3 separate regions of the Homo sapiens genome follow, and regions 1 and 3 are each linked to region 2. The links come from fine-mapping of genetic effects on gene expression. A gene starts in region 2. Each other region holds a variant in brackets. All regions are shown on one strand. Distances are from middle to middle. Region 1 overlaps TRIM58 (tripartite motif containing 58). Region 2 holds the start of OR2W3 (olfactory receptor family 2 subfamily W member 3). Region 3 holds the start of LOC102724446 (a long non-coding RNA gene).

What was found.
Region 1: its variant is fine-mapped to the expression of OR2W3 in whole blood (TOPMed, PIP above 0.99).
Region 3: its variant is fine-mapped to the expression of OR2W3 in subcutaneous fat (GTEx, PIP 0.96).

The regions. Positions count from the first base shown.
Region 1 is chr1:247,869,843-247,877,513 of GRCh38, forward strand. It overlaps TRIM58 (tripartite motif containing 58), which reads left to right. Exons shown (of 6, transcript NM_015431.4): 6 at 6,058-7,671. The coding sequence ends at 6,647. Among named protein-coding and RNA genes, the nearest start is that of TRIM58, 16 kb to the left of the region's middle. The variant C/T (reference allele first, on the strand shown) is at 5,636.
Region 2 is chr1:247,892,685-247,900,560 of GRCh38, forward strand. It overlaps OR2W3 (olfactory receptor family 2 subfamily W member 3), which reads left to right and starts at 2,903. Exons shown (of 1, transcript NM_001001957.2): 1 at 2,903-3,847. The coding sequence starts at 2,903. The coding sequence ends at 3,847.
Region 3 is chr1:247,635,795-247,643,670 of GRCh38, forward strand. It overlaps LOC102724446 (a long non-coding RNA gene), which reads right to left and starts at 5,060. Exons shown (of 3, transcript NR_188589.1): 1 at 4,917-5,060; 2 at 61-141. RefSeq lists a silencer at 3,871-4,069. The variant C/T (reference allele first, on the strand shown) is at 4,201.

The sequences.
Region 1 (7,671 bases), 23 kb before region 2:
AGTGGAATCGCAGGAGAGTAATGACCCAATAACGCAGTGGGATACAGATGCTTATATACCTTTCTTTATTGGAGGAAAGGGAGATGGGGAGGTGTGGATGATTTTAGGGAGATAGTAAATGATTTTTTGGAGGATTCATTGGGCTTGGAGTGCATACAGTGGCTTGGGACAAAGTGTTGAAAAGTAGACAGTGGTTTGTGACTAAAGTCTGTCCAGGTGTATTGATAGACTTGTCTGTCTTCCTGCAATATGAGCTAAATTAATTAAAATGCAGGGACTTCAGGCAGATAAATGAGTGTTAGAATAAAGCTTCTTACAGTGTGTGATGGTCTCCAAGGGCCTTTAATTTAAAATAATGGGCATACCAGGGTGCCATATTTTAGGGTAAAATTCCCTGGTCTCCTTCCGTGGGAGAGTGCACCATGCCCAGAAAAATTAGGATTGGTATATTCATGAGCAGTATCAGAGTCACGGCCACCCATAGAGCCTGCACCACCATGCCCAGAAGAACGAGGATTAGTATATTCATGAGCAGTATCAGAGTCACGGCCACCCATAGAGCCTGCACCACCACGCCCAGAAGAACGAGGATTAGTATATTCATGAGCAGTATCAGAGTCACGGCCACCCATAGAGCCTGCACCACCACACCCAGAAGAACGAGGATTAGTATATTCATGAGCAGTATCAGAGTCACGGCCACCCATAGAGCCTGCACCACCACGCCCAGAAGAACGAGGATTAGTATATTCATGAGCAGTATCAGAGTCACGGCCACCCATAGAGCCTGCACCACCACGCCCAGAAGAACGAGGATTAGTATATTCATGAGCAGTATCAGAGTCACGGCCACCCGTAGAGCCTGCACCACCACGCCCAGAAGAACGAGGATTAGTATATTCATGAGCAGTATCAGAGTCACGGCCACCCGTAGAGCCTGCACCACCACGCCCAGAAGAACGAGGATTAGTATATTCATGAGCAGTATCAGAGTCATGGCCACCCATAGAGCCTGCACCACCACGCCCAGAAGAACGAGGATTAGTATATTCATGAGCCGTATCAGAGTCACGGCCACCCATAGAGCCTGCACCACCACGCCCAGAAGAACGAGGATTAGTATATTCATGAGCCGTATCAGAGTCACGGCCACCCATAGAGCCTGCACCACCACGCCCAGAAGAACGAGGATTAGTATATTCATGAGCAGTATCAGAGTCACGGCCACCCATAGAGTCTACATTTGGTTAGACTATGGGCTTAAAACTGTAGGTCATCTCTTATTAGCTGATATGAGTAACGTTACTTCCAGTAAATTTACATTTCCTTGCTTATAAAATGCTAAAAATAAATTGCTTGGAGGACAAAATGAAACATTTGAAAGCACCCCACCTCCTAAAAGTAATCAATATGAAAGCACTGCAAAGTTATCAATTAGCAAGAAGTTTGGTTTAATTTATTGGCTGAGAATTTGATGAGTTGCTTGAATTAGTGAGTCAATAAAGCCAAAAATATTGTCAGTTATTTTCATGTAGGAATAAGCAGTGTCACAAAAAATTAGTGTGTTTAGTCTGATTGTATTATTCTTTAAAACAGTATAGATTCAGTATTGTTTACAATTTCATTTTAAAATCTAATTTATCCCAAGTAATGAAAACTATGTCTAAATAGTGACTTCACTACTTAGAGGGAAAGAGTGTAAAGTCCCTTAATGAGAAAACCCATCTCTGCAGCATAGTACCCACGTTCTCCTGGGTAGATGAATGTATGCTAAATGCCCAACTTGATTAAAATCGTCATGGCACCCTCAGACTCAGCAACCTCATATCCATATTTGTTTTTATGGAATGAAATCATTCAAAATGTGTGATTAATTTTATCTCACCCATTCTTTTAAACATTGGAATATATCATTCAACAACAACAACAAAATACTCTACAATCCGTAGCTTTGTGTTGCAGATATGTACTTCACCAAAATACACAGGCTGTAAGTGGCTGACACAGAATATTGAAGAAAATCAAAAAGAGTATGCAAAGGGTAATGAGAAGTTCTAGTTTTGAATAAGGTGACCAGGAAAGACCCCGCCCTGCAGGGGATAACCCAGCAAATATATGATCTGGAAGAAAGCATTCAGGCAGCAGAAATGAGCGCCAAGGCCTGACGTGGAGGATGGCAGGTGTGTTCCAGGAGCTGTGAGGATGTCAGTGTGAGGACTCTGTGGCAGAGTAAATGACAGGAGGGTCGGAGAGACCAAGAAAGGGCTAGATAGGCAGGCCATGCTGAGCATGATACTTTATCCCTGAGCGAAATAGGACATAGTTGAAAGTTGTACCTAGAAAAATAGTTTGATTGGACTAATGTTTTATGAGGATCACTCTATATGCTTTCTTGTAAGTAAATTACAGAGAGGAGAAGATTGACATGGGAAAAGCAGTTAAGGGTCTTTGCAGTAATTTGATGAGAGATGATTATGTGTTGGAATAGATGTTATTACGGAAGGTGCCGCAAGATGGACAGATTTTTGTTATATACTGAAGGCAGAGCTGTTAAGATTTGCTGTTGGATTATATATGATGTGCTATAAACAGGAAGAGCCATGAATGATTCCAAGGTTTTGGATCTTGCGAACTGGCAAAATGTGATTGCCACTTATATTGATGAGGAAAGCGACAGTTGAAGCAGAAGAAGGGCACAGGGTTTTGGATATGTGGATGTTGCGATGAGTGCTAAATATTCAAATGTTGCTATCAAGTGGGCAGATGAATGTACAATAGGGAGTTTCAGGGTAAAGTTCAAAGCTAAGCACATGCATTGGGAATCAGTCAGCATATGAATGGAATTTTATCAAAGCAATGAACCAGCCAGCACCCGGGTAGATAGGGAGTGAGGTGAGAGAGAGAGAAGAAGTCCAAGTCTTGGGACTATAGGTTTCTCCAGTGGTGGTGGTGGAGGAGAAGAGAACAGCAAAGAGGATCAAGGAGTAGTGAGCAGTGAGGGAAGGGAAACATGGATGAGTGTTACCTTTGGAAAAGGGAGATTTTCCAGCACAAGTAGATTCTCAGTGTTGAGAGATACAGAAAAATCATTGAAGATGAACTCTGGGCCGGGCGCGGTGGCTCACGCCTGTAAATCCCTGCACTTTGGGAGGCCGAGGCGGGCAGATCACCTGAGGTCAGGAGTTCGAGACCAGCCTGATCAACCTGAGGAAACCTTGTCTCTACTAAAAATACAAAATTAGCCAGGCGTGGTGGTGCATGCCTGTAATCCCAGCTACTCGGGAGGCTGAGGCAGGAGAATCACTTGAACCCGGGAGATGGGGGTTGCAGTAAGCCAAGATCATGCCATTGAACTCCAGCCTGGGCAACAAGAGCAAAACTCCATCTTAAAAAAAAGACAAACTGACAAGTAACCATTCATCAACACGGAGGTCCCTGGGAAGATGGACATGCGCAGTTTGGTTGGGGTATGGTCACATCATGATGAAGAATTGAGTTTAGGAGAGAAGGGGTAGGGAGAGGAATGGGATACAGACCATATCAAAAGCCATTTCACAGATCTCTTTTGTTAGAAATGAAGCAGACCACTGTGCCGGAAGAGGAATGGCTTGGGAATACATGACCTGTTAGATTGTGTTAAATGCACAATCCATGGAGACCTACCTTTCAATCTCTGTTATTTACCTCTAGAGTTTGGGAAGACCACATAAACTCTTTGACTCTGAATCTACTCTTGTGTAATGTAGGGATGACAATGGTGACCCTCAGGGTGGTTACATAATAAAAATAATGCAATGCGCAGTTACGTGACCACTCAGGTTGGGTATCAATAAAAATTCACTAGACCGGGCGTGGCAGCTCACGCCTGTAATCCCAACATTTTGGGAGGCTGAGGCGGATGGATTGCTTGAACCCAGGAGTTCGAGACCAGCCTGGGCAACATGGCAAAACCCCTTCTCTACAAAAAAATACAGAAAACTAGCTGGGCATGGTGGTGTGTGCCTTCCCAGCTACTCAGAGGGCTGAGGTCAGGGGATGGCTTGAGTCTGAGAGGTGGAGGCTGCAGTGAGCTGTGATTGCACCACTGCACTCCAGACTGGGCAACAGAGCGAGACTCCGTTTCAAAAAAAAAAGTAGTTCACTGTAAGTGTTTAAAGGCAAATAAGTATAGTGGTAGTGGTAGTAGCAGTAGCAGTAGCAGTAGCAGTAGAAACAGTATTTGTTCTGATATTAAAAATCAAACTATATTAACATGTTAGTCTGATTTTGCATTGCTATAAAGAAATACCTGAGGCTGGGTAATTTATTAATATAAGGAAATATGCTTTATTTTGGCTCATGGTTCTGTAGGCTGTACAGGAGTCATGGTGCTGGCACCTGTTTCTGGTGAGGCCTCAGGACACCTACAGTCATGGTGGAAAGCAAAGGAGGAGCCAGCGTATCACATGGCAAGAGGGAAGCAGTGAAGTGGGGAGGCCCCAGGTTCCTCTTAAACGACCAGCTCTTGCATGAACGGATAAAGAACTCACTTATCACCAGTGGGATGGCACTAAGTCATTCATGGGGGATCTGCACCCATGATCCAGCACCCCCCACTAGGCCCCACCTTCAACATTGGGAATCACATTTCAACATGAGACCGGGAGGCGATACACATCCAAACCATATTATTTATTAACTTACTACTTATAAGCAATGCTAATAAGGAAATGCACTGAATATTTTACATCCCCCCTTCACTGAGGTTTCATATCTAGATGTATTTATTTATTATGTATATGGGTCAAATGTCTCATCAATCTCACTGGGACTTCAGAGTATCAGTATTTTTTATTGTTATATAACGCATAACTACAAGCTTATGTGCTTAAAGCCATACCATTTAGTAGCTCATGGTTCTGAAGACCAGACATCCAAGTGGGATCAGCTGGCTCCTCTGCTTAGGTTTTCTCAAGGCCCAAATATGGGTGTTGGCCAGGCCAGGCCAGGCTTCTGTGTAGGTCGGGGGAAGAACCTTACCTCCAACCTTATTCAGGTTGTTGGCATAATACAATTCTGTGCAAATGCGGTACTGAGATTCCTGTTTTCTTGCTGGCTGTTGGTTGGGGGCTATTCTCAGCTCTGGAGATCACTCTCAGCTCTAGAGGTCACTCGTTTGTCTCTTCATGTGACCTTTCCATTTTCAAAGCCAGCAAAGAGATATCAAATCCACATCTTATTGACCTTTCCTGCTGCCACCAACCCAATAGCCAGAGAAAACTTTCTGATTTTACAGGACTTGTGGGATTTGATTAGACGCACCTTGATAATCTCTCTCTTGTCATATAGTGTAACATACTCATGAGGCTAACACCAGGGTGTGAAGGTCATGGGGTCCATCTTAGAATTCCGCCTACCACAGTAATATAACTTTGGAAGTAGTGGATTTAATATTAATAAAATTCTATAGATTTTTAAGAAAAAAATTCCTAAGGGGTTTATAAATTTTATGTTAAATGCAGAAGATCCTCCTAAGTGCACTCAAATGCTTTGGATGTAAGCCAGACATGGTGGTGTGCACCTGTAGTCCCAGCTGCTGGGGAGGCAGACACGGGAGGATTGCTTGAGTCCAGGAGTTTGAGGCTGTAGTGTACCA[C/T]GGCTATGCCCATGAATAGCTCTGCACTCCAGCCTGGGCAACATAGCAAGACCCCGTCTCTCTGTCTCTCTCTCTCTCTCTCACGCACACACACACACACAAATGCTTTAGATGTAAATGAAAGGAAACTAAATGATAATTCACTTGGTTTGTCGTCATCAATAGTTGTTTTTTTTTGGGAAAGTTAAAGAGTTCTGGGTTACGCAGAGGTAACAGTGGAATATACCAGAAAGTTATAAAGAATAAGAATAATAAAGTAATAAAGAAGATTTCACCTGTAAGGTGAAATACTGATTTGTTTTCTCTAGGAGTTAATAGAGAGAGAAAAGTGAGGAACTGTGGGACTATTCTTTTCAGTGGTTTCCTAAGTTTCTACCAGTCCTTTCTTTCCTTTCACCTGGTCCACCACATTCTTTCCGCAGTGGATGTAAAGCTGGATCCCGCCACGGCGCACCCGAGTCTGCTCTTGACCGCCGACCTGCGCAGTGTGCAGGATGGAGAACCATGGAGGGATGTCCCCAACAACCCTGAGCGATTTGACACATGGCCCTGCATCCTGGGTTTGCAGAGCTTCTCATCAGGGAGGCATTACTGGGAGGTTCTGGTGGGAGAAGGAGCAGAGTGGGGTTTAGGGGTCTGTCAAGACACACTGCCAAGAAAGGGGGAAACCACGCCATCTCCTGAGAATGGGGTCTGGGCCCTGTGGCTGCTGAAAGGGAATGAGTACATGGTCCTTGCCTCCCCATCAGTGCCTCTTCTCCAACTGGAAAGTCCTCGCTGCATTGGGATTTTCTTGGACTATGAAGCCGGTGAAATTTCATTCTACAATGTCACAGATGGATCTTATATCTACACATTCAACCAACTCTTCTCTGGTCTTCTTCGGCCTTACTTTTTCATCTGTGATGCAACTCCTCTTATCTTGCCACCCACAACAATAGCAGGGTCAGGAAATTGGGCATCCAGGGATCATTTAGATCCTGCTTCTGATGTAAGAGATGATCATCTCTAAAATTCTGTTCCCAAGATGCAGTCCTAGCGTAGCGAACGTTCCTGGAGTGGGGTGAAGGATATCAATATACTAAGTTTTAACAGATACCCCATTTAGGTCAGCACTTGATTCGTTGTTGCTGTGAAATATGTCCATGGGACAAAAGAGGGAATATGAAATATTTGCATATGGGAAGATTATAGAGCATAATAATTTTGTAAATGGAGCAATCTCAACCTCTATTTCTAGATCACATTTTCTTGATGTCTTCCTTCAAATTAATGACCTTGGATTACATAAGGATTTCTATGCATTCATTATAATTTGTTATTCCTTTCAATATCCTTGTATTTCAAATCTTCCATATAAGAATTAGACATGGCAATTCTTAAATTGATTCAGAATGGTCTGATACTATTCCAGTATCACCTCCTTAATTCTGTTTCTCCTCGTTTTCCTGATTTTCCTTCTCATTCTCTCCTTCCCCGCTCTGTCTCTCTCTCCCTGTCACTCTCTCTCTCTTGTTCCTTATTTTTTGTTTCTTACCTCTTACTGTTTAACCTGTTGCTTCCTTCTGGATTAATACATTTAGAGCCATTCCTTTATATGGTCACATTTCCTATGACTTTACTCAATTACTTTTAAAATCCTTTCTATTCTGAGACTAATTTTTAAGAATTACAAAGCTCATTCTTCTGAATCTAATATCACTAACTCCTAGACTTTTTCCGTTTTCTTTGGATACACTTTAAGTAGGAATTTATCAGAATTTTCATTCAACTCGTTCTTTAATGCAGATATTTACTAGTTATAAGACCTTAAGGCTGGGTGCAGTGGCTCACGCCTGTAATCCCAGCACTTTGGGAGGCTGAGGCGGGTGGATCACAAGCTCAGGAGTTCAAGACCAGCCTGGCCAACATGGTGAAACCCTGTCTCTACTAAAAAAAAAAAAAAAATAGAAAAATTAGCTGGGCATGGTGGCAGGAGCCTGTAATCCCAGCTATTCTGGAGGTGGAGACAGGAGAATTGCTTGAACCCTGGAGGC
Region 2 (7,876 bases):
GATCCGCTGTTAGTCTGATGGGCTTCCCTTTGAGGGTAACCCGACCTTTCTCTCTGGCTGCCCTTAACATTTTTTCCTTCATTTCAACTTTGGTGAATCTGACAATTATGTGTCTTGGAGTTGCTCTTCTCAAGGAGTATCTTTGTGGCGTTCTCTGTATTTCCTGAATCTGAACGTTGGCCTGCCTTGCTATATTGGGGAAGTTCTCCTGGATAATATCCTGCAGACTGTTTTCCAACTTGATTCCATTCTCCGCATCACTTTCAGGTACACCAATCAGACGTAGATTTGGTCTTTTCACATAGTCCCATATTTCTTGGAGGCTTTGCTCATTTCTTTTTATTCTTTTTTCTCTAAACTTCCCTTCTCGCTTCATTTCATTTATTTCATCTTCCATTGCTGATACCCTTTCTTCCAGTTGATCGCATCGGCACCTGAGGCTTCTGCATTCTTCATGTAGTTCTCGAGCCTTGGTTTTCAGCTCCTTCAGCTCCTTTAAGCACTTCTCTGTATTGGTTATTCTAGTTATACATTCTTCTAAATTTTTTTCAAAGTTTTCAACTTCTTTGCCTTTGGTTTGAATGTCCTCCCGTAGCTCAGAGTAATTTGATCGTCTGAAGCCTTCTTCTCTCAGCTCGTCAAAATCAATCTCCATCCAGCTTTGTTCTGTTGCTGGTGAGGAACTGCGTTCCTTTGGAGGAGGAGAGGCGCTCTGCGTTTTAGAGTTTCCAGTTTTTCTGTTCTGTTTTTTCCCCATCTTTGTGGTTTTATCTACTTTTGGTCTTTGATGATGGTGATGTACAGATGGGTTTTTGGTGTGGATGTCCTTTCTGTTTGTTAGTTTTCCTTCTAACAGACAGGACCCTCAGCTGCAGGTCTGTTGGAATACCCTGCCGTGTGAGGTGTCAGTGTGCCCCTGCTGGGGGGTGCCTCCCAGTTAGGCTGCTCGGGGGTCAGGGGTCAGGGACCCACTTGAGGAGGCAGTCTGCCCGTTCTCAGATCTCCAGCTGCATGCTGGGAGAACCACTGCTCTCTTCAAAGCTGTCAGACAGGGACATTTAAGTCTGCAGAGGTTACTGCTGTCTTTTTGTTTGTCTGTGCCCTGCCCCCAGAGGTGGAGCCTACAGAGGCAGGCAGGCCTCCTTGAGCTGTGGTGGGCTCCACCCAGTTCGAGCTTCCAGGCTGCTTTGTTTACCTAAGCAAGCCTGGGCAATGGCGGGCGCCCCTCCCCCAGCCTCGCTGCTGCCTTGCAGTTTGATCTCAGACTGCTGTGCTAGCAATCAGCGAGATTGCATGGGCGTAGGACCCTCCGAGCCAGGTGTGGGATATAGTCTCGTGGTGCGCCGTTTTTTAAGCCGGTCTGAAAAGCGCAATATTCGGGTGGGAGTGACCTGATTTTCCAGGTGCGTCCGTCACCCCTTTCTTTGACTGGGAAAGGGAACTCCCTGACCCCTTGCGCTTCCCAGGTGAGGCAATGCCTCGCCCTGCTTCGGCTTGTGCACGGTGCGCGCACCCACTGGCCTGCGCCCACTGTCTGGCACTCCCTAGTGAGATGAACCCGGTACCTCAGATGGAAATGCAGAAATCACCTGTCTTCTGCGTCGCTCACGCTGGGAGCTGTAGACCGGAGCTGTTCCTATTCGGCCATCTTCGCATGTATTTATTTTTATTTGTCTTAGTTTGGGAGTACTGTTTTGTTACCTCCACGTATGGATTTATATTAATTTGCGAGTACTGCTTTTTACCTGCACATACATGCTTATATCTATTTATATTAATTTGGGAGTACTGCTTTTTACCTGCACATACATACTTATATCTATTTATATTAATTTGGGAGTACTGCTTTTTACCTGCACATACATACTTATATCTATTTATATTAATTTGGGAGTACTGCTTTTTACCTGCACATACATGCTTATATCTATTTATATTAATTTGGGGGTACTGCTTTTTAGCTGCATGTATTGCACAGTGGCGAAGTCTTGGCTTTTAATGCATCCATCACCCAAACACCAGGATGGACCAAGTCTCCCTATATCCATCTGTAAGACTTGTGGTTTGTCTTATCAAATATGCTTTGCTTTGAATGTGATGTGGTATTAGAGTTGGAACGTGATAGAGGTTTCTGTACATATGCGTGAATTTTGCATTACAGTTGTAATATCTGTTACAAAGTTTTTTCAATCTCTTTTATCCTCTCAAGCAGTATATAGTACTTTGGAAGAAAAACCCATACACTCTATTTGTTCAATACCAGGCCCATTTAAAAGACAGAGAGAAAAAAAGAGATTTTATGTGTATTTTGCCTGTCTCTTACATTATTTATCTACTGAGGTAATTTTAAAATTAAATTAAATTAAATTCTGAGGTAATTTAAAAATTACCTCAGTAATGGTAACCCAATGAATGAGGTGTGTCTTTGAGACCAGTAATAGATAAAGTACTCTGTGTGTAAAGAGTATTTCCTAAATACTATTGATGGATTATTTTGAGGCTCCATTTTGAGTCCTTGAGGTTTTTGGCAGGAGCCTAGGGACTGGAGTCTCTAGAAAAATTCGTGGTTTGGCCACAGCAGGATTTGCCTTCACTTCACTGGATTTGGAGGCAGTGCTACTGGTGGTTTAGATTGCACACTCTCAGCTACATTGCCGGGGTTCAGAATCAGCTCTGTGTCTTCCTACATATCACAGTTTGCTCAACACACATGTGTTTCAGTTTCCTTTTCTATAAGTTGGGAGCTAATAATAATAGTGCAACTCCATATAACTGTTGGGGTTGAATGAATAAAATAAATATAAAAAGCATAGAAGAATGCTTAGCTTCTAGTAAGTTCTCCCTTAATATCAGCTGTTATTATTATTATTAGGATTGATATTTCTGTTCAGCAGCAGTAGAGATGGATGGAACCAATGGCAGCACCCAAACCCATTTCATCCTACTGGGATTCTCTGACCGACCCCATCTGGAGAGGATCCTCTTTGTGGTCATCCTGATCGCGTACCTCCTGACCCTCGTAGGCAACACCACCATCATCCTGGTGTCCCGGCTGGACCCCCACCTCCACACCCCCATGTACTTCTTCCTCGCCCACCTTTCCTTCCTGGACCTCAGTTTCACCACCAGCTCCATCCCCCAGCTGCTCTACAACCTTAATGGATGTGACAAGACCATCAGCTACATGGGCTGTGCCATCCAGCTCTTCCTGTTCCTGGGTCTGGGTGGTGTGGAGTGCCTGCTTCTGGCTGTCATGGCCTATGACCGGTGTGTGGCTATCTGCAAGCCCCTGCACTACATGGTGATCATGAACCCCAGGCTCTGCCGGGGCTTGGTGTCAGTGACCTGGGGCTGTGGGGTGGCCAACTCCTTGGCCATGTCTCCTGTGACCCTGCGCTTACCCCGCTGTGGGCACCACGAGGTGGACCACTTCCTGCGTGAGATGCCCGCCCTGATCCGGATGGCCTGCGTCAGCACTGTGGCCATCGAAGGCACCGTCTTTGTCCTGGCGGTGGGTGTTGTGCTGTCCCCCTTGGTGTTTATCCTGCTCTCTTACAGCTACATTGTGAGGGCTGTGTTACAAATTCGGTCAGCATCAGGAAGGCAGAAGGCCTTCGGCACCTGCGGCTCCCATCTCACTGTGGTCTCCCTTTTCTATGGAAACATCATCTACATGTACATGCAGCCAGGAGCCAGTTCTTCCCAGGACCAGGGCATGTTCCTCATGCTCTTCTACAACATTGTCACCCCCCTCCTCAATCCTCTCATCTACACCCTCAGAAACAGAGAGGTGAAGGGGGCACTGGGAAGGTTGCTTCTGGGGAAGAGAGAGCTAGGAAAGGAGTAAAGGCATCTCCACCTGACTTCACTTCCATCCAGGGCCACTGGCAGCATCTGGAACGGCTGAATTCCAGCTGATATTAGCCCACGACTCCCAACTTGCCTTTTTCTGGACTTTTGTGAGGCTGTTTCAGTTCTGACATTATGTGTTTTTGTTGTTGCTCTTAAAATTGAGACGGGGTCTCACTCTGTCACCTAGGGTAGAGTGCAGTGGTGCCACCATAGCTCCTTCGACTATTGGGCTTAAGCGATCCTCCCCCACCTCAGCCTTCCAAGTAACTGGGACTACAGGTGTGCATCACTGGCAGTGGGAATTGTGGCTTGTGGCTTTTCTGTCTTCTATGGAGACGGGGTCTTGCTGTGTTGACCAGGCTGGTCCCAAACTCCTGGCCTCATGTGATCCCCCTGCCATGGCCTCCTAAAAGTTCTGGGATTACAAGTGTGAGTCACTGCGACTGGCCAACATTATGTGATTTATGTGTGAACTATATAACACAAATCATCCCCAAAACCCATCATGATCTGTAAAGCAGCTGCAAAGAATGAAGTGAGACAAACAGTTGTAAAGATGAGTTTCCACCTACTTATACCAGAGTGCTAAGAGGAAATAACTCTTCTCAATCAGAGCTTTGCTTTGTTTGTTGTTGTTTGCTTTAAAGTCTAACACACCTGACATGTTTCAGTCAGAATGACCCCAAATGCATCACTGTTCTCCACGTGGTCCAAGTGCCTCTCTGTTTAGGGCCATCAAATCATGGAATGCAGCACAGTTTTATATTTTCTATATTCCCAATTCCTACCCAAACCTTTTCATGAAATCGTAGAGTTTGTTTTACCCTTTATCTGGTGTAAGATTCTGCATAAACCAAGAAGTGAACCTGTAAGTTATGATGCATGGGTTGTTTAAATCTTAAAGCATCATTCTTTCTCAGGCATGTTTTTTTCATTATTAGTAAGAAGAACCTGACATTGGTTTAGTCCCTTCTGTGTACCAGACGCTCCTAAGTCATGCAACCTCAGTATTTGTATGAGGTCAGCATGATTATCATTATTCCCATTTTATCTCCCTGGTCCTTGAGATCTGAAGGTTAAATCTTTTGCTCGAGGGGAACTGAACCAGGGTTTTTTCCAAGTTCTGTCAGACTCCCGATTCATATGGTTTCTATTGCATCATGAAATTTCAAAGAGCAAAAATCCTTAAGCATTTGGCACACAATGTCAAAGACCCTTTGGGGCTAAGGGGCATGACTGGCTACTGTTCCTTACACATTGCAGTCCTCAATGTGTCCCACTAACGTGCCCTCCAGTTATCTGAGGTCTTGTTCCAATGCAATTCCAATTCAGCTGGTGATAAGAGGGGTCTGAGTTTCTGCGACTCTGCAAACCTCCCAGGTGATGTCCCTACTTTGGGGACTCGGACTACATTTTAAGAACCCAGGAAGTATATCACCCCCTGCTCTTGTTCCGGGCATTTGGAGGGTGGACACATTCTGGAAAAAGTTGGGAGAGTGTTCATAGACCAAGGGCGAACACAAGGTGAGAGGGAGTGGTGTGAAAGGCCAGCTGAGGGGTGGTCCTCATTCCTCTGCCGTTGCTCCTGTGCTCGGCTCCCTCCTCCTCCACAAGTGTATTTCTGCGCTCTTTTGTATCCTCCTCACCTCCACACCTCACATCTAAAGTCACCAGCCCCAGGGCATTGTGTAAGTGTAAACAAACCAGAGCCCCAGAGAGGGGGATTCCTGTGCTTCCAGAGCACCCCCTCTGACTATTCAAGGATGCTGTTTGTAAGAAGTACTGATGTGGATGTGTAGTAGGAAGAGCCGCAGACAAAACTCCTCAGACACCGAGTTAGAGAAGGAAGGGGTTTATTCGACCAGGGGCATCGGCAAGACTCCTGTCTCAAGAGCCGAGCTCCCCAAGTGAGCAATTCCCGTCCCTTTTAAGGGCTCACAACTCTAAGGGGGTGCGCGTGAGAGGGTCGTGATCGATTGAGCAAGTAGGGGGTACGTGACTGGGGGCTGGTAATTAGATCGGAACAAAACAGGACAGGGATTTTCACAGTGCTTTTCTATACAATGTCTGTAATCTATAGATAACATAACCGATTATGTCAGGGGTCAATCTTTAACTACCAGGCCCAGGGTGTGGTGCTGGGCTGTCTGCTTGTGGATTTGATATTTGCCTTTTAGTTTTTACTTTTTTTTTCTTTGGAGGCAGAAATTGGGCATAAGACAATATGAGGGGTGGTCTACTCCCTTATTCCCCCCTTTGAGAGTCTCACTCAATAGTGGGAGTTCTCACTTTCATTTTTACTACCCATGTCTTCTGGCAAGACAGATCAATAGTGATTCATATAGTACACTTGTGCTGAAGCTTTTGGTGAACTAAGGTAGTGATGAAGCTTTTTATCATTTGAAGAAGTACAGGTAGCAAACAAAGGAGCAGTAAGTAGGTTCCTATTACTATTATAACTCTTATTATAAGAGTTTTAAATCCTCCTAGCTCTGGGAACCATTTTCTAAACATGGCCCCAGGATCAAATCCGTCACACTTGCATGGGCACGTGTGCCAGTTTTGTCATATCTCTAACTATGTCTTCAAATACTTGCCCTTGATTATCTATGTGTAGGCAGCAATTAATAAGGTTAAATTTCCTACAGACTTCTCCTTCAGCTGCTAGCAAGTAGTCAAGAGCCAATCTGTTTTGATAGATAGCATTTCTCATCTGAGTTTCTTGCTGGGTCAGAATGGTCAAGGCTCTGCCGGTTTTATTAGTGATTATTTTTAAGACAGCTTGTAACCATATGATTTGGTTGATCATGTACATGTGGGTCCGGTATCCTCATGAGCCGTCTTGTACCTAAGTAGCAGGCCCATAATATTGCACGATTCTCTTAGGGGGCCATTTATCATTTTTTCAATTTCTTATAGCTATGCTTCTCTTTTCATGGGAAGCATAGACAGGGAAGCCCAGGAGTTTGCCTGTTTTTATGGGCGGTAGGAAGAAAGATGGTTTAATAGTGCCAATAACACAACTACCTGCCTACTGGTCAGGTAATTTGGCATAAGCTCTATGCCTACATATCCAGTATAATCCAGTGGGGGCCGTCCAGTCCTGGTGGGACTCCAGGTGGGTCCACACGATCTGCAACTTTGGGAATTTATGAAATGGATTTCTCTCTGTGTGATTTGAACTCCACCAAGTGACTGTTTTTGTGGTACCATTATACAGTTTCTGTCTCCGACAACTAAGTCATCCTACAGGGTGAGTAAATTCTTTTCCTTCCCTAGCTATGCAATATTGTCCAATAATTGAGGCGTTTAGGACCTAGAAATTATCAGGGTGATTCTTTTGAGCCGGGAATTCATCAGGAACTGGGTCTGTAGGTACTAATTCTCGGGCTTCCCATGGCCATTGATCTCCCATTACAGTTCCTCCACATACATAATGTGAAGTGACATTGAGAGACTGGGCTACATGCTTGGCTAATTGCAAAAACAAATTTCATGTTTTTCCTGGAATTTCTGGTACTGGCACATTTAGTTCATCATAGAAAGTTTGAAACGCTGGCTCAGGAGAGCGTTTGTAAACTTCTCCTCGAACCAAGATATTTACTCAAGGATCCAGTCCGGCCCCGTCAATTCCTAAGGTCACACGCTCCTCTTTTTCCCAGCGAGGTTCAAGGGGCTTGGTTATTACTAGCTCTAAGGGGTTACATTGTCCCTTAGTACAGGAAGGGCCATTTTTTCCTTTCTGAAGGTGGACTGGATCCTTCTCATTTTTTTTTTTTATCCAAGTGGCCTAAAGGACACAAGACCAGTGTTTACATTTATTTCCACACAGCCCTAATTTATGACAGATGTACTTATTTTCTGCCGTATAGCCTCTTTTCTAATTAAGAGAACCACACCTTATTCCTAACTTATTACTATTAATGACAGCACAGGCATCAAATTTTAAGGTGACTTGTTTGGGCACCCCTTTTTCTTCTGTTTTGGCTAACACTTTACTCGTATCGTTTATGAGCCCCCACCA
Region 3 (7,876 bases), 260 kb before region 2:
AATCCTGGCAAGAGACAATGGTGGCTCTGGCTGGCATGGGAGGGTGTGGGAGGGGCTTACCTGATGCTCTGTGATGGTTTGTGTCTCTCTCATGAGGGTGTGTGCATTTCCTCAACACCTGGCAGCAGCGGAATGTTGGATCTATTTAAGATAAATATTAACAGCCTGATTATTATAGGTGTTATTATTCCAACAATAACCAGTACCCTAATTCTCTTATTCCAGCTCAGTGTCCAACAATTCTGTCCAGTTCTGACACTAGCCGGAGTTAGCGCTGACCCCAGGGGTTAAGGGCTCAGTTCCCCAAGACCACCTCCACTTCATATGCAGGCCAGAAATGGGGTCCTCAGGCTATTTACACTTCTGCCTAGCTCACTAAAAATGTGAGGGTTGGTAGTTTGTTTCAAACTATGACTCCATCACTCCTGTCCCCAGGTTTGAGAATTTTCTAGAATGGCTCATTCCTCAGGAAAGCGCTTTACTTACAGTCACAGTTTATCTTAAAGGATACAGTTTAAGAGCAGCCAAATGGAAGAGATGTACAGGGTAAGGGGTGGGGTGGGGATGGAGGTTCCCTGTCTTCTCTGGGGGCACTAGCACCTCAATGTATTCACCATCCTGGAAGCTCAGCCTCGCTGTTTCAGGAGTTTTACTGAAGTTTCATTACATAGGCATGATTGATGGCAATTGGTGGTGATTGGACTCAATCTCCAGCCCTTGTCCCCTCCCTGCAGATCAGGGGGTAGGGCTGAGAGTTCAGCCCTCTATTCATGTGGTCGGTTGCCCTGGCCACCAGCACCCATCTAGAAGCTATGTAAGGGCCATCTAGAGTCACCTCTTAGCATTAACTCAGGTAAGATCAAAAGGGGCTGTTTATGAATAATGGAAGAAACTCCTATCACTCAGGAAATTCCAAGAATTTCAGGTGCCTTTTTGCCAGGAATCAAGGGCAAAGACCAAATAGATAAACATTTTGACCCTAACTTTTGAGACAGGGTCATGTCAGAGCTCAAGCGATCCTCCTGCTTCAGCCTCCCAAGTAGCTGGGACTAAGGTGCATGCACTCATACCCGGGTAATTTTTTTTTTCATTTTTTGTAGAGATGGGGTCTCCCTTTGTTGTCCAGCCTGGTCTTAAATTCCTGGCATCAAGGGTTCCTCCAGCATCAGCTTCCCAAACTGTTACAATTACAGGTGTGAGCCACTGCATCTGGCCCAAATATATATTTTTGATGATAACACAATGGGAGTATCAAAAATTCAGATGGGAGAGCAGAGTCCATTGTTCAGAAGAACAGCAGATCAGTGAAGTCCAAGTGTCTGAAAACCAACCCAGGCAGGGAAGAGTAGGTGGGCAGTTGGAGGGCCAAGAAAACTAACAGCCTGATGTGGCTGATGAAGGACGGAAGTGGATGTGGGCTTTCAGCCATGAGCAGTTGGCAATAACTTAGAAGTAGAGCCTGGGTGCGGAGAAGGAGCAAGTAGATTTGCAATTTTTCAACCTCTCCTAGGTTTCAGGAGTTCATGAGTGTAAATAAGTTCATGAATGTCCAGGCATATTCACATGCATAGCTCCATGTCTCCAAATCTTCACTTGCTTGACAAGATCTTAATCCCATGTTTCTCTTGTCTCCTTAAATTCCTCCTCAGCTATTTCTGGGTGTCCTTGGAATGGTGATGTCTCAACATGGGCTTGGGAACACGTTTGCTCCTCTTCTTTCCACTTGAGTCCAGGGGCCTTGCCATGGCCTCTGCACTTGGTGCTCTTTGAAAGACATGATTCCTGTGCACCCAACAGACCCCTGTGAAACAGGAATAAAAATGTCTCATAGGATGTCAGTGAAGATTCAATAAGATAGTGTTTATAAAGCACTGAGATTAAATAAGAATGTTTGATTCCTACTAAAAGCTCAATTAATGGCTGGGGTTATTATTATTACTGTTCTTATTGTTAGGCATGGTTTTGAATTCCTCACCATCCTAATTGCCACTTAAAATGAACAACTGTCTTTGTGGATACAATTTCAGAGGCAGCATGGGGACTAACTTTTCCAGAACATGAACCTAGTGCCTCCTACAGTGGTAGAAATTAAAATCCTGTGTGAAAACACAAATATGCTTGGGAGAGTTACTGATTGCCAAGAAAGCTCTTTAGTTTCCTTTCTGTGTGAAGAAGCAAGCAGGGCTCAAGGGGCCCTACCAAGGCCATGGAGAATGGTAAGTGCTGCTCACAGCCACCCAGTCTGCGTTCTCCTTTCTAAAGGAGGTCTAAAGAGGTGGGAGTGAATCAGTTTAGTTTGCAAACACACACACACACACACACACACACACACACACATATGAAAATATGCAAGACGGAATCCCAGGGCCACTTTGGGGTGAGACCTTCCCCATGAGCAGGAAGGATGTTGAGGAACTGGAGCAGAGCCCAGGCGGGAAGAAGAACCAACAAGGTCACGTGGCAGCTTGATCTGGCTGGGAACTGAGCTCTGCAGTGTGCTTGGGAATATAAACAATGGGGACAGAAAAGAAAAAAAAAAGATTTCATTAGAAATGTAAAATCAACCAGGAGGGCAGCTCTGTCCTGCTGGGGCATAAAGCCATGGTGGAGGCCCAGGAAAGTTCTGTTGATGGAAAACAGTATCTGGGCATTTGGCAGCAACAGATGACTTAGATATGTTCCCTTGATTTCAGTACTCTCACTTTTATATTGAAATTATGCTATTTGATTTCTCAGCACCTGGTAGAGTGCCTGCACAAGGACTGTGCAGTTAGCATTTGCTGAACTTCACAGAATTGGGGATGGGGTGGAGAAAAGAGCAGAGCCCATCACGAGAGGGAGGTAAAGTTGAGATAAAGAAGTTTGAGATGCTCTAGACACCCTTTGCGTACTTCACCTTTTTTTCTGGCATTAGCCTTGAGCATTAAGATGCAAAGTAAAAGCGAAGGAAAAGGAAGAGGCCTGGAGTGAGGATAGTGCATGGAGCTCATCCTCATGAAATTCTTCTCTGGTTGCTGTTCCCATGAGGTTATGCGATGCCTGAGCCCAGGAACTGTGCTCCTGGGTCCTGATACCAGTGCCCAGCCCATAGCGGGGGATCCCCATTTTATGATAAGAATAAATGAGCACCTCCCAGATCGGTGACTTGCTCCACCCCACAATAACCCCGGGAGGAGGGTGTGGTCAGTCCAGCTGTACAGGTGAGAAAGTGAGCTGGGAGCTGTGACTTATCCACACCCTCTCAGCAGCAGTTGTGACAGCTGGGGTCACACAGTTGATTCACTGCCATAGGGGAAAAGTGGAGGAGGGAGAGGGGCAGAGAGCGAAGAACAACTCAGGAAAATGAAGGAAAAGCAGAGGCAGAGAGCGAAGAACAACTCAGGAAAATGAAGGAAAAGCAGAGGAGAAATTAACTGACTGGAAAAATGACAATAGTTGGAAGACAGACGAAAAAGGGACGAGTGCATCAGAGTGTATTTTGGCACTTATTACTCTATCTCCTTTTTATACTACTTCGCTTTTTCAACTTAATAGTTAAGGCACGTCGGTCTAGTCTTCCCCGAAGGGAGCTTGCCAGGCTCTGCGACAGGCTTGGAAGTTGGAGCCCGGGCCCTGGGTTCTCTCAGCTTCCAGCTCAGGAGGCGGAGTGGGAGGAGCGGGCCTGGCGGCCGTGGGGGCGGGGCTGCTCCACTAACGGTTACTGGTCGCTGCTGCCGCCGCGCTCCTCCCCCGGCTGCGGCAGAGGCGCGCGCCTGCGTCCTGAGGATCCCGCCCTTGGGCCGCCGGGAACCTCGCAGAGCGGCGGGGTGGCCCTGGCGAGGCGCGGTTGTTGGGGGTTCGCTCGAGCCTCACGACGCCCGCGACTGGGGACTCGGAACCTGGGCCAGGCTGGGACGAGGCCGCGCGGGAGGGCGCGCTGGGCGGACGCTGGGGCCGCGGAGCCCAACCGCCCTTGTCCTGGACGCCCCTTGGCGGTCCGCACTGGCGGGTGCCCTCTCCCGAGGGGAACTGAGGCGGGGCGCCTGCCACCATTCGTGATTTTCCGTGACTCACCCTCTCAACAGTGTCCCGTCAGCCCCCGCTTTCTGGAATTAAGATGATTTTCCATGGGCATTATAGTCAGAGGAGGTTTTCTGTGAGACATCTGGGAAAGGTGACTCAATGATCACTCATATTGTTCTATGATGTTATACATTTAAC[C/T]GGAATACTGGTGAACAGCTTTTATATCTTGGAATTTTTTCCCATTTTTGAATCAGAAATTTAGGACCAAGAATCTTCTGTCACAGAACCTATTACTTTGAGGAGTGAACTTATATTAACGGTGCTAAACCGTACATGAACGACTTGGTAGATGAAAACTTTGGAAAATAGGAACATTTCATGTCATCACATGTATCCTCCAGCATTGGGGAAAATTCAACAGTTGCCTTAAGGCGGGAGTTTAATTGAGGACATTTACTAAAAAGTTACTTATTCTGTTTGAAATTCTCTTCTGATAAACATCTTCCCGGGATAACGAACATCTCCAGGATGTGAGAGCCGAGCGCGTGTCCGCGGAGTGCTTGAGCAACGCAGAATGGCTTCGGTGCTGCGTTCCTTAGACCCCGTGCGGACCCTGCTGAGCCCTCAGCATCTGTGAGTGAGTCCCTCCGCGTCACCTTGGCCTCCCGTGTAGCTAGATCAGTCTTCCGACCCCTTGTTCTACTTGCACAGATTTCTGATTAACCTCTTCTGCTCCTCCAGAGATGAGTCAGGGCTCCGTATCAGCTCCCCAAGGCATTTGCTGGCTTCTGACATTTACTTGGAGGACTTTGGGCTGCGAAAGGGCAAAGTTTGCCGTTCTCATCTCTTTTTTTGGTGCCTGCCCCCGGGTCTTGACCTTTCTCTGGAGTCTTCTCTCCTGGTTCTTTACCCACCTCTTTGGTTTCTCCTGTGGTTCTTTGTCAAGGTGTCCCCTAGATGTCACACTCTGAGGCTCAGTTGTGGCTGAGTCTTGCATTGCAAGTGTTTTTGCAGGTGTCTCTGCGAAGCGTGGATATGGGATGGTGAAAGTGGCAGTGTGCACAGAGTGTTTGGGATTAGATGGGCAGGTGGAAGGGCGTCTAGGTAGGACCCCTTTGTCCTGGTGTGAGGTAATGAGGTTCTAGAGTGTGCTGTCAAGGTGAAACTAAAAGGAAAGGATAGACAGGAGACTTTGTGAAAGACGAAATTATGGTAGTTTGGTAACAAATGGATGCAGGGACTGGTGGGTGGGTGTAGAAGAAGGCAGAAAATCTTGCCAAGGACATTGCAAGTCCTGAATCAGACCAGGAAAATTAAGGTTCAATTAACAGAAATAAGTCCAGAGGGGGAGCTAATTTTGGAGGAAGTGTGGTGATAAATTTGCTTTTCTATGTGGTCCAGCTGGTGGAGAGACATCAAGAAGCACTTAGAGAAATACAGGAAATAGAGAGGTGGGTGACCTAAGTCCTACTTCCTATCCTGTCTATGTATATATAACAAAGGCCAAATGAATTCATGTGTTGAGGTCTGCTTTCCTATTTCTAATAGCAATGGCATAAAATGAATTCTAGCCAATTCTAAAGTCACTAGTAGATAGTAATATTCACGAAGTAGCCACAAATCCAGGGCTCTAACTCAAGGGAGAGAGATCGGGACTGGAGATAGAATTTTCACAAGTAACTGATGCATGGCACTTTTCTGTATTTTGGTAAATGTATTGAGAAGATGATTGCAGTTAAGTAGCTAACTGTTCCAGATACTATCCGAGGCATGAATGATTTGTCCTGGAGTAGGTGTGCTGTGTCACTGTAGCATATCTACTACAACAGACATGATATGTTTCCATACATTATCTCATTTAACACTCAGAAGAACTTCAGGAGTAGTTATTACTAGTCCATTTTGCAGAAGCTTACAGATAAGATTCAGAGATGAAGCATCAGGTCTATCTGATTTAAACCCAGGTCTATCTGATTTCAAAGTCGATGGACTTTTTGTTATTTCATACCATAATCTGTCAGGGTGTGAGTGGGGGATAAAAGAAAGTTAAACAAAACTCTTGGAAACAGAGAGGAAGGGCTTAAACCATTAAAATTAACTTCAGAAGTCAAGAATGAAGCTCGGGCAGAAAACAAGTAGAGGGCACAGTTCTGTCCCGATTTACAGAGGATGGGTTTGCGACCTTTCTGATGCATTAACTTAGTAATGCTAAGGTGTGCCATCCAAAACGATCACCTGTATATAAGCCACTCTTTCACAGAGGTGGGTTTTTCTTTTCTTTTTTAATTCCCATGCTGCTCAAAACCTTTTAGATTTGAATTATTGGGAAGAATATCTCAGGGTAGGCAGGAAGCCAAAGGGGTTGAGAGCTGCTTGTCACTTGCTGGTTTTGCTTGGTATGGGCTCGGTCAGCAGTAGGGACTTCCTTAGTCCTCAGTCTTTCTAGGTTAACTACCACCCTCTTGGTCCTTGTTTCTGTTTTGCTTTTCCTGGCTTGGACATGGAATTTGTAAGTGCCACACATTATTTCCTGTCCCATGACCATACTTAAGCTATAAATTATAGTTTTGTTTCTTCCTGATCCTTTTCCTTCAACACCAAATGTGTTTGTGCCTCAAACCAGGAAGTTGGAAATGTTATTTAACTTTCCTGCATTTTAATTGGTCACAAATCTCTCCCCTTACACACACGCCCCCAACTTTTGAGGAGTCTTGAGAATCTCCTTAACGTCCTTGACAGTTGATCAATGAAAGACATGTAGGGAGATCCAGATTGCAATGAATATTGTATTATTTGCTTAAGAATTTGAAGAGTTATTGCTTCGTAGTAAATGAAGATGAGCATATTGAGGTTTATAAGGGAGGCTGAGGTTCACTTGGCCAGAGATTCAGATGTTCACTTTATTTTATAATCATCCTTTTTAAAAAACAAAATAGACTGACATGGGCAACTTTCTCAAGATTTCATATGGCACATTGCATGTAGGGATAAACAGTACCAACATTATTTGCTTGGAGTGCTTTAGGATCGAGGAATGGGGAAGCCTAAGCAAAACCCCCAAATCTTGGCAAGCTCAGGAGGAGGGAGCAGATAGCACTGCTGGGGTGATCTGTGCTGCTTGAATGCTCTTTTGGAGAATCACTTCCCTGTAGATAGGCCACAGATTACAGTTTACCAAAAGCATTGACTGTCAGACCCACATAGCTGGTTTCCATTAACATGGTTTTGCTCTAGGTCTTTTTCAAGTCCTCTTTTTTTGTTTGTTTGTTTTTTCTTTTTTCTTTTTTTTTGAGACGGAGTTTCGCTCTTGTTGCTCAGGCTGGAGTGCAATGGCGTGATCTCGGCTCACTGCAACCTCTGCCTTCAGGGTTCAAGCGATTCTCCTGCCTCAGCCTCCCGAGTACCTGGGATTACAGGCGCCTGCCAGCACGCCTGGCTAATTTTGTATTTTTAGTAGAGATGGGATTTCACCACGTTGGCCAGGCTGGTCTTGAACTCCTGACCACAGGTCATCCACCTGCCTCGGCCTCCCAAAGTGCTGGGATTACAGGCATGAACCACCATGCCCGGCCTCAAGTCCTCTTTTAAACGTGGAAACTTCTTCCTGCATTACACAGTTCTTTTCTCACCCTCTTCCTGCCTCCCTTCCTTTCACTATACCTTAGCTATACTGAATTGGACATATAATTCTTAGCTCATGCATGGCTTTCTTTTAATAATTAGCTAAACAATAGCATGGTCATATATGATGATATCACCCAACCAGAGAATAACAACATTGTCCGTATTTACCTCTGTACATTTTCTCTGCAGCCTGTATGCCTGTCTCTCTTACCTCTTTGTGCTGATTGTTCTGTTGCCTTTTTTGTAGTTT